Linked DNA regions of Homo sapiens: region 2 is linked to region 1. The links come from fine-mapping of genetic effects on gene expression. A gene starts in region 1. The other region holds a variant in brackets. All regions are shown on one strand. Distances are between the middles of the regions.

Evidence for each region. PIP is the estimated chance that this variant, and not a neighbour inherited with it, causes the effect.
Region 2: its variant is the best candidate, but not a certain one, in a credible set for the expression of BCL7A in tibial nerve (GTEx, PIP 0.68).

The regions. Positions count from the first base shown.
Region 1 is chr12:122,018,825-122,024,190 of GRCh38, forward strand. BCL7A (BAF chromatin remodeling complex subunit BCL7A) reads left to right here and starts at 3,060. Exons shown (of 6, transcript NM_001024808.3): 1 at 3,060-3,359. The coding sequence starts at 3,268. RefSeq lists silencers at 2,939-3,018, 3,149-3,468, 3,619-3,778, 5,259-5,348 and an enhancer at 3,613-4,428.
Region 2 is chr12:121,960,504-121,965,869 of GRCh38, forward strand. CFAP251 (cilia and flagella associated protein 251) reads left to right here. Exons shown (of 22, transcript NM_144668.6): 14 at 82-255; 15 at 1,475-1,659. Among named protein-coding and RNA genes, the nearest start is that of CFAP251, 45 kb to the left of the region's middle. The variant A/G (reference allele first, on the strand shown) is at 3,092.

The DNA of each region.
Region 1 (5,366 bases):
TGGGGATCAAAATCACAAATACTTTCAGGGGCCAGACAGGTAACACAAATGAGTAAAGTGGCTATGAGTGCACTGGTGACCCAGATAACTCTGTCTGAAAGATACAGACAGAGCTCTCTGCTCTAGCCGATGGGTGCCATGTGGCACTGAGGGTCCAGTTTGCAGATCTGCTGGTTCTAGAGAAGCTGGGTATTTTTTTTTTTCCTTCCTTCCTTCCTCCCTCCCTCCTTCCCTCTTTTTCTTCCTTCTTCCTTCCCTCCCTCTCTCCTTCTCCTCATCCCTCTCTCTTTTCTTCTTTCTTTCTTTCGTTCTTTCTTTTCTCTCTCTCTCTCTCTCTCTCTCTTTCTTTGCTTCATGCAGTGGCATGATCTTGGCTCACTGCAGCCTCTACGTTCTGGGCTCAAGCCATCTTCCCCACCTCAGCCTCCTGAGCAGCTGGGGCTGCAGATGCGCACAACCACACCTGGCTATTTTTTGAATTTTTTGTAGAGATGGGGTTTCACCATGTTGCCCAGGCTGGTCTCAAACTCCTGGCCTCTAGCAGTCCACCCACCTCGGCCTCCCAAAGTGCTGGAATCACAGATGTGAGCCACCGCGCCCAGCCTAGATTTCTTTTTATTATGATCAAATACACATAAAATTGACCATTGTAACCATTTAAAAGTGTACAATTCAGCGTCATTAAGTACATTCACATTGTTCTGCAACCATCACCACTATCTCATTCCAGAACTTTCCTATCACTCCGAAAGGAAACCCCACATCCGTTAGCAGTCACTCCTGCTCTCCCTCCCCCTTGCCTCTGGCAACCACCAATCTGATATCTGTCTTTATGGATTCGCCTAGTTGTAGATATCTCCCGCAAATGGACTTACGCATATTTATCCTTTTGTGACTGGCTTCTTTCACTTAGCGTGTTTCAAGGTTCACCCATGTTGTAGCATGTATTCATTCCCTTTTATGGCTGAATAATATTCCATTGTGTGGATAGACACATTTATCTGTTCCTCAGTCACTATTTGAATTCTGACATAATATTTTCCTATTTTAAATTTTAAGATACATTTTTTTAAAGTTTCATGTGGCCCAAAGCACATACCTATTGATCTCACATATCTCTGTGAGATCTGTTTTATGACCTGCTGTTGCATATTTTCCCAGAAAATTCTCGGAACGATTCTCTGAAGTCCTTCTTTCTCTTTCTCTTTTTTTTCTTTTTCTTTCTCTCTTTCTTTTTTTGTTTTGTTTTGTTTTATTTTGTTTTGTTTTGTTTTTTTGAGATTCAGTTTTGCTCTGTTGCCCAGGCTGGAGTGCAATGGCATGATCATTGCACCTCTGCCTCCCAGGTTCAAGCATTTTCCTGCCTCAGCCTCCCGCGTAGCTCAGATTACAGGCCTGCACCACCACGCCCAGCTAATTTTTGTATTTTTAGTAGAGACAGGGTTTCTCCATGTTGGCCAGGCTGGTCTCGAACTCCTGACCTCGTGATCTGCCCACTTCGGCCTCCAAAGTGCTGGGATTACAGGCATGAACCACCGCGCCCGGCCTTTTTTTTTTTTCTGAGACAGGGTCTCACTCTGTCTCCCAGGCTGGAGTGCAGTGGCTGGATCTCTGCTCACTGCAACCTCCGTCTCCCAGGTTCAAGCGAGTCTCCTGCCTCAGACTCCCGAGTAGCTGCGATTACAGGAGCCCACCACCGCGCCCGGCTAATTTTTGTATTTTTAGTAGAGACGGGGTTTCACCCACCATGTTGGCCAGGCTGGTATCGAACTCTTAACCTCAAGTGATCCACCCGCCTCGGCCTCCCAAAGTGCTGGTATTACAGGCATGAGCCACCGCGCCCGGCCAGTATTTGTTCTTTTCTTCATTTTTCACGTCAGGAGACTGCGTTTCAGAATAGTAAAAACAAATGCCTAGGAAAAGGCCTGCGGTCTCTCCATTTCCACAGTAGCGTGTTCCCCAAAGACCAAACCCTCAGGGGAAACGTCTAGAATGAGTAACAACTTAAGGCTGCAACCTTAAACTTTCCCAGGACTCAGTTTCCCCAGCTGTGAAATGGCTGCTGTCGGGCTGTCATCTCCAGGCCCGGGGCGCTGACATTTGGGCCACTCTCGGTCTCCCTCTTCATTCTGGGCGCGCATTAGCTCTGGTCCGGCCGGTTCCGCTGCAGCTGAACAGCAAGATGCGGCACCCAGGTTACCCTGATCATCGCAGATTTCTCCCCGGGGCTCTGTTCTGAGGCCTCAAAAGTGCTCCTTGTAGATGGGACCAGGGGTCATTTGGGCAGTAGCAGCGCCTGGTCTCAGTCTGGTACTGAAGTCAGGAATGGCTTAAGGTGAAATCGTGGTCCTCTGGTGAAGCTCAGCGAAGACCCCCTCGCCTTGTTTATGACAAGAGAACTTCTGGGGGCGGGAGGAAGAGTCCCTGTTACGATGCTGATCATCATTGAGCTTTTGCTGAGCAGAAAACTCTTTAGTACTCAAGGTCGAGAGTCTCTGGTGGTCTGCCTGGCACCAGGCACCTTCCTACAACCCTAGTTTTCCAAAAGGACAAAGCCTGGGGCAGGCGACGTCCTAGCTCGCATTTGAACAGGGCCGCGGGCCAGCAGAGATGCGCGATGCCCAACTCTTTCCAAGAGCACCTCGCGTCCCGAACCGGTGCCTTCAACTCGGAGAAGTCAAGAGACCCGCAAGAAACTTGCACGACTGCACCCGCCGCCGCGCTCTGGGGGCTGGGCAGGGGCAGCTGGGCTGGCTCCCGGGGAACGCGACCCCCCCGCGCCCCGCAGACCGGCTGTCTCCCATGGACCCCTCGGCACCTGCAGCCTCCGAGGAAGGGTCAGCGCGCGTGTCCGCACGCCCGCCCCCACCGCGCGCCCAGAGCCGGGGGTCGCCGTGCGCCCTTCGCCACCTCCCCAGGAGGGCGTCCGGGGCGTCCCCTCTGGGGGCGCAGGAGGCCCGGGGGCGCTGCCCGGTGGCCGCGGCGCCCGGAGGCCGCACTGCCGGCGGCGGCGGCGGCGCGGCTCCCCCTGCTCTGTGCAGCTGCCGCCCGGCGCTTGCGCACTGGGCCAGGCGCGCGGCGGCCCCGGGCTTTGTGTGTGTGTGTATGTGTGTGTGTGTGTGTGTGTGTGTGTGAGTGTGTGCGTGTGAGAGTGCGAGTGTCTGTGCGCGAGTGAGTGAGCGGCGGGCGGGCGCGAGTGTGGCCGCCGCGGAGCGCGAGCAGGACCCGGCGGGCGCGCTCCCCAGCCTCCGTCTCCCCGCCGGAACCATGTCGGGCAGGTCGGTTCGAGCCGAGACGAGGAGCCGGGCCAAAGATGATATCAAGAGGGTCATGGCGGCGATCGAGAAAGTGCGCAAATGGTAAGCGGAGGCGCCCGCCGCCAGCCGCCTCCCCGGCCGCCCCGAGCCCGAGCGCGGCTCCAGAGAGCCGCGGGGCGCAGCGCCCCGGCCGCCTGCCCCGGCCCAGCCCCGCCGCGGGCCCCGGGACTTGGCGAGGGCGGGCGGACGGGCGGGCGGCGCGCGAGCCGGGTCACCTGCGCCAGGCTGGGGCCGCGGCCGCTGCCCAGGTGCGCTCGCGCCTGTAGCCCACCTGGCGCGGCGGCCCGGAGGCGGCGGGCGCCGGGGCCAGGCGGTTGGAGCGGCGGGGCGGCCCCCGCCGCGGCGCTCGGCTCCCGGGAGGGGGGCTCGGGGCCGGCCCCAGAAGCCATTTCGTTTTGTGCAAGTCACATGAAAGCGGCTTCCCGCGCGCCGGGGCCGCGATGCCGGCGGCGGCGGGGAGAGCGCGAGCTCCATTGTGCAGGCTCCGAGCGGGCCGCCGCCGCCGTCTCCTCCCCGCGCACCCCGGCCCGCGCCCCGCCGCCCTCCGCCAGCCCCGGCCCGCCCGGCCGCCCGCTCCCGCCTCCCGGGCCCGGCGCCCTCGAGTCTGCGGAGTTTGCAGAGCGCGAGCCGTTTAAATTTAGCGCTTTGGGCTGCCTGGAGCGAGGGCTCTCGGCGACCAGGAAAGATGGGGGCGAGCGCTGGGAGCCAGCGGCCAGGGGCGCGGGGCGCCCACGTCCCACCCCGCTCTGCGCGGCGCCCCGGGCGGGGGGCTCGGGCCAGCCGATGTTTTTGGCCAGAAGCCGTTCGTCCTGGGCCGCGGCTGCCTCTCCACACCGGGAGCTCGTGTTTGTTTTGCGGAGGGAGCTGTTGTTTTTGTTCTCTGCACCGGGGAGAGGGGGACTTGGTGGCGGCCGCGCGTGGTTTTCGGGATCACATTAGCGTCCGCCCGGCGTGGCCCGGTCGACATTAAGGGGATCGAACCTTTCCGCGGCCTCGTCGGGGTCTGCTCGGAATCGGCCCCTGGGCCAGGCCCGAGGCGCAAGCAGATCGCCAGGTTGGGTCAGAGTTGTTGAAAACTCCCCGCTGCCTGATTTCAACTTTATTATTTTTTTCCCACGCCTTCACTGGGGTCCCGGAGGGAGAGGAGCCGCCGCAACGCTGGCTCTGAGTGTCAGCGCCCGCGGGCTCGTCTCGACCCTTTATTTCGAGCCTGGAAGCTGGGCAGGCCCTGTGGCAGGGGATGTTTACGTTTGGGGGTGTCGTTTCTCGAGTAGCGCCTCGGTCTCTAAAAGCCACTGGGGGCGAGCCTCCGGTGTGGCGGTGTCACAAGTTAGCTGTCCTTTCTGAGTCAAACCCAACAAAAAAGGCAAGAGGAAAATCAATAAAGTCCACGTGCTCCCCGGCCTCCTATGGAAAGGGCTGGCTGCGATGGCCGGATGCCCGGCCGTGGGCTGGGTTTGGCTCCAGTGGGACAAAGAATTTTCAGAACCGTGAGAAGGGGAGGCTTTCCAAAGTTGAGATCCAAGTCGTCGGTGTCTCGGGAGCTCCCCTGGTACACAGGGTGCCCGGTGCCCGACTGGAGCCATTTAAAAATGGCAGAAACAGCTGCAGGCCAACACACACACGCTGGAAAACAACCCGCAGCCCCCTCTACTGTGGGATTCCCCGCGGGAAGCCCGGAGTTGCTCCCCTCCTTGCCTCAGCCCCTGTGCAAAGAAAGAACTGGTGTCTGTGCCTGGGTCCCTTCTGTCGCCGGCCTGGAGGTTGGGAAACAGCCGGCAAGCCGCCTTTCTCTGCTCGAGGAGGCGTGGTGGGGCCTCCTACTCCAGGTTCCCGGCTGGACAGAGGCTCCTGCACCCTGACAGCTGCTCCCGCAGAGCGGCCAGCTGCTCTGCAGGGAGGGCAGATGGAGAGATGGGGCTTCCCACCCCGCGGGCCCCGGGGCGGCCGGCCTGGAGGCCTTCCAGCCCGCTGACCCCGCGGGGACCAGGCCTGTAGTTGGAGCTTGAGGGGCTGTACCTCTGCGCCTCCCTGGGTTTGGGGAAACAA
Region 2 (5,366 bases), 58 kb before region 1:
CACCGCGCCTGGCCCATAATGATGATTCTTAATTTACTAAACGTAAAATGGGATAACTCCTTCTCTTTTGCTCATCTTCAGGATAGAAGTTTTACTGTGGCTGTTTACATGCTGGTGGTCAGAAATGGACAGAGGGTCTGGGAGTACTTAGCAAGACTTCGCTCTCATCGCAAAAGCATTCGAAGTCTCCTGTTTGGGGTTTACCTGGACAGCAATGAGCCTAGACTGCTGAGCCTTGGGACAGACAGGCTCTTGGTGAGCTGTTTAGTTTTCGTTGACCTGGTCGCCAAGACTGTGTCTCACTCTTGTGACATCCCTGGCATCTTGCATAGAGCCAGGCCCACAGTACGTGTGTTTGTTGGAGAAAATGAATGCACAGTGAAGGATCACAAACCTCTCCAGGTTGGCATTTTGCCTTAACATGGCTGGGACACCACCTGGGGACTCCTGTGCTGAACGAGGAGGCTTCCCGGGCAGCAACAAGTTAGAAGGCAAGGAGCGGGGAGTTCCCCATAGCTTGGAAAGCAGCCGCCCTTGCCTCCCAGTGTGCACGGGGAGGGCTGACACTCACTAACACTGTCTTCATGTCCATCAGTTGGGGCCAGGCTGCTACCTAAATGTGAAAACTAGGAGAGGTTGTGAGATAAGAGGAAAAGGTAGGGATGGGCAAACGCAATATTACAGAGTCAGGTGAAATGGATTCAACCAGTCATTGTATCTGTCTGTTTTTCCTTCCTCCCTCCCTCCCTCCTTTCTTCTCCCCCTCTCTCCCTCCCTCCCTTCCTTCCTTCCCTTTCTTCTTCCCTCCCTCCCCCGCCCCTCCCTTCTTTCTCTCCCCTTCCTTCCTTTATTCAGTTTCTCCATCCATTCATCCATCTGTCCATCCATCCATCCATCCGTCCATCCACCCATCCATCCATCCATTCTGCCCTGCCCACGGAAGCATACCTGTATGGGCCCAGTTCAGTGGCTACTGATTTGTGACTGCCAAGTGTTGGGCTGAGATTTAGATATGAATTAGTTCCTAAGATAATAAGTGACACAGTATAACAGAACTGTAAGACGTCAGGTGTGGGAATCAGCTGGATCTAAATTTGAATTTTTGAATTTTTACTCTGCCACTTTTTAGCTATGTGACCTTGGACAAGCCACTCTGAACATCCTTGAACATCTGTTTTCTCATCTGTAAAATGGGCAGAACAGTACCCCTTTGCAGGGAAGTTCTGAGGATGACATGACAGCTGTTTTTAGAGCACTCAGCTCATTGTCTTCCAGGTAGTGAATTCTCAGTACTGATGACTTAGTCAGTGTCAGGTCTAGGCAAGTCTTCTCTTAGGAGACCTGATACCGTCTCCCCCAGAACAGCACTGTTGGCTGATAATTATAAAGGCTGTCACCCAAGAGCTTGGGGTTCCTTAGCTGAGCCTTTAATTTGGCTTGGTCCTCATGTGTGTCCATCTGGGCTCCTCTGCAGATAGAGTATGATCTTCTCAGGAGCTACAAAGACCACCTGGAAGTCCTGGACATTCACCACACCGACCAGGGCTGCTATCCCACCTGCATGGTCTGGTACCCACCACTCACCAGGGAACTCTTCCTGCTTATTTGCAACAGTGGCTACAAAGTGAAGCTTTTTAATGCTACTACCAAAATGTGCAGGTAAGCACCCGGAGCTTCCCATTGCAGGGGGCGTGGATCAAGTTCTCTGCCCCCAACCTGTTTCAGGTCTCCACATAGGGACCTGCAGGCAGCTTGGCTACTATTATCATCCTCTTTGCTTTGCAGAGGAGGAGACTGAGGCACAGATAACGTAAGTAATTCTCACCAAGGTCATGTGGCCCTGTGTGGAGGTGAGATGTGCAGAATCCAGGAAGGACACAGACCCTGGGGCCCTGGGAAAGTTGCTAATGCTATCTCCTATTCTCCTCTCATTAAGAAAAACATAGTTTTACCTGGCTACTAACAATTGTTTGATTTTTTCTTACTCTTGGGTCTCAAAGGAGTTTTAACTTTAATTGCTAGCCCTCCTTTGTTTACACCCTGCGTGAGCCAGGTACCGTTTTAGGTGCTGAAGATGATGAAAACAGAACAGTTTCCATCACTGTGGAGTTTACATGTTGGCGGGGGCAGGTGATGCAATGGCGTGAACAAGTAGCAAGGTAGTAGGTATGTGGTAATCAGGTCTGTGCAAAGAAGAAAAAAAAAAAAAGGAAAAGGAAAAGGCAGGATAAAAAGGTGGGGAGGCAGGGAAGGCCTTGGAGAGCAGGGGACATCTGAGCATCCAGACAGAGACTTGAAGAAAGTGAGGGGGAAGCGAGGGGCTGCTGTGCGGTTGGAGGAAAGACAGTGGATCAGCAAGGGCCAATGAGTGAAGGTGGGAGGCGTCTGGGGTTTGGGAAATGCCGCGAAGGCTGGTGAGGCCAGAGTGGAATGGGCAAGGAGGGGGCATGGGAGAGCAGGTCAGAGGTACGGGCTGGTGCCAGGCACACGGCACCCTGGAGACTCTGGTTCCTTCCCGGGTAAGGCGAGAGCTAGTGGAGGGTTTTGAGCAGGGGAGTGACATGTTCTGATTGATGCTTTAGAATGATGTCTGGCTTCTGTACAGAGAGCAGACTCTGGGGCGCAAAGGTAGAAGCAAGATTCGGGAAACTGGTGTGAGAGCTGATGGCGGCTTGGCCCTGAGGGCAGAAAAGAGGGGTCAGATTCTGGATATATCCTGCCGGCAAAGCGAACAGCGTTTGCTAATGGAGGGAACAGGAGGTGTGAGAGAAGACACCTCTCGAAGTCAGAAGAATGGACTGGACCTTTAAAGAGATGAGGAGGACAAGGGAAAGATAGCTTTGAGATAAACCAGGGGTCAGACTGGACAAGGCAAGCTTGAGATGCCTGCTTGGCATTCAGGTGGGAACCCACGAATCAGACTCTGGATTGTGGAGGTCCCGGGAGAGGCTGGGCTGGAGTCAGGAACACAGGATGGTTGAAGGCACGAGACGGGGAGGACACCAGCCGGGGAGCAGGGCGTCCGCTGCTGGGGAGCAGGGAGTCCACAGCCAGGGAGCAGGGCATCTGCAGCCCAGCATCCTAGAGTGGC[A/G]TCTCCTCCCTCCTGATGCCATCCTGCACATGCACGTGGGCCCCTGTGCTTTGGCCCCTGTGAGCCCTCACAAGAAACACTGACGATTGTGCCTCGAGTACAGCAGGGCCTGCACTGTCATCCCATTCCCTCATCCACAGCCCTGCTAACTATTCTCCCACCGAGCTTCAGGAGGCTGTGTGACTTGTCCAAGGTCAAACAGGGCAGGACTTGACCCTTGACCCTAGCCCTGACCCCATCCTCTACTCAGCGCTGTGGGGCCTCGACACAGCCCTGGCTTTGGGATCTTACCTGGTCAGCCCTGGAGGGGAGCTTCTGCCTTTGGTTTGGCTGTGTCTTGGGTATGGCTGGAAAGAAGGATGGAGGCAGGAGAAGTTCGAAGGGAGAATGTTTCAGTGATCCACCACGACCACCACCACTGCCACTGCCACCACCACCAGGAGAAGGAAGTCAGGGAACTGGCAGCAGCTGGCTCAGGCTTGAAGACTATCATGGTTTTGAAATGTATCTCAGATAAGACAGGTCCTCAAAAGGCCAGGACCACCCGGGATTTGTTGTTGTTGTTGTTGTTGTTGTTGTTGTTGTAAACAGTTCTTTCCCAGAAGGCACAAGAAAAAATGACTGAGAAATGCCATGTTTTATGGTAGAGAGAAAAATCCAGGACAGTTTCCTTAAACGATTAAAACACTGGAAAGCATGTGTAAAGAGGAGCTTTAGAAAGATTTCAGAATCATTGTGCATAGTTTTTAATGAAAACATACTTTTTGGACAAAGAATATCTCTCAGATATGCGCAGTCCTAAGACACTGAATTGGCAGAGCTGGAGAATGAGGGCTGGCAGACCTCGGGCCTGAAGTTCCTGCTAACAGTCATTCACTGGAGGAAAGAGGCAGGAGGGACTTTTAGACACAAAGTTGGGAGCTTCTGCCTGTTGATGATCAATCTGAAATTAGCATAAAGCATCTTAAAAATTTTTATCAAGGTGATACTCACGTAACATAAAATGAACCATTTGAAAGTGAACAGTTCAGCCGGGCGTGGTGGCTCACGCCCCAGCATTTGGGAGGGGCCGAGGCAGGTGGATCACCTGAGGTCAGGAGTTCGAGACCAGCCTGGCCAACATGGTGAAACCCTGTCTCTACTAAAAATACAAAAATTAGCCGGGCGTGGTGGCATGCACCTGTAATCCCAGCTACGTGGGAGACTGAAGCAGGAAATCTCATGAACCCGGGAGGTGGAAGTTGCAGTGAGGCGGGATTTTACTAGCCACTTTACTCCAGCCTGGGCGACAGAGCTAGACTCTGTCTTAAAAAAAATAAAATAAAATAAAATAAAGAAAGTGAACAGTTCCATGGCATTTAGTACTCATGGTGCTGTGCAACCCCCACTGTAGCTTCAGAGCATTTCCATCATTCCAGAATAAAAGCCCTTGCATAAAGCATCTTGTAAGCTGTAGGAATAAGAAAGCCTCATAACCATGGCTTAATTGGGAAGGAATTGTCTTTTTGTGATAAATCCAAAAGAATGTAAAAATGCATTTAAAAAAGATTTGAAAGAACATGAAAAGGCAGTTCACAGGAAAAGGCCAATAAACCTATGAGCAGATGCTCACTAGTATGTCAAAGATGCAAATGAAAACAAGATATCATTTTTTCACCAATCAGATTAGCAAAGATAAAAATGATTGATAGTGCTTAGCATTGGCAAGAGGCTAGGAAAACGGGCACTCTCATCCGCTTCTGGGGGCGGGTGTGAATCAGTGTAACCTTTTGGGAAAGCAATTTGTCACCCTCTATTAAATTTTATCATATCTTCTGACTTCTAGGAATGTAGCCCACAGAAGTACTCACACAGTATGCCAAGACATAAGTAAACGGATGTCTTGTTTGAAAATATTTTTAAAAATGGAAACAATCCAAATGCCCATTAATAGGGGATGAGTTAAACAATGGTTTGTCAGTACACTGGAACACGATGCTGCTTTTAGAAAAGAAAAAAAAAGGAAGAGTAAGACAGCTCTCTGTGTAATGACGTGGAAATATCTCAAAGATGTAAAATGAGATAAAGCAAATTACCAATGAAGCATGAATAGCATAATTCTATTTTTATATAAAATTATAATTACAAAAGAAATTCTTGAGTCATATACACCAAATTATTACTCATGATTATCTTGGGATAGGGTGCAGCAATGTGGAGATATAGATTTTCTCCTTCTTCTTCTTCTTTTTTTTTTTTTTTTTGAGGCAGGGTCTCACTCTGTTGCCCAGGCTGG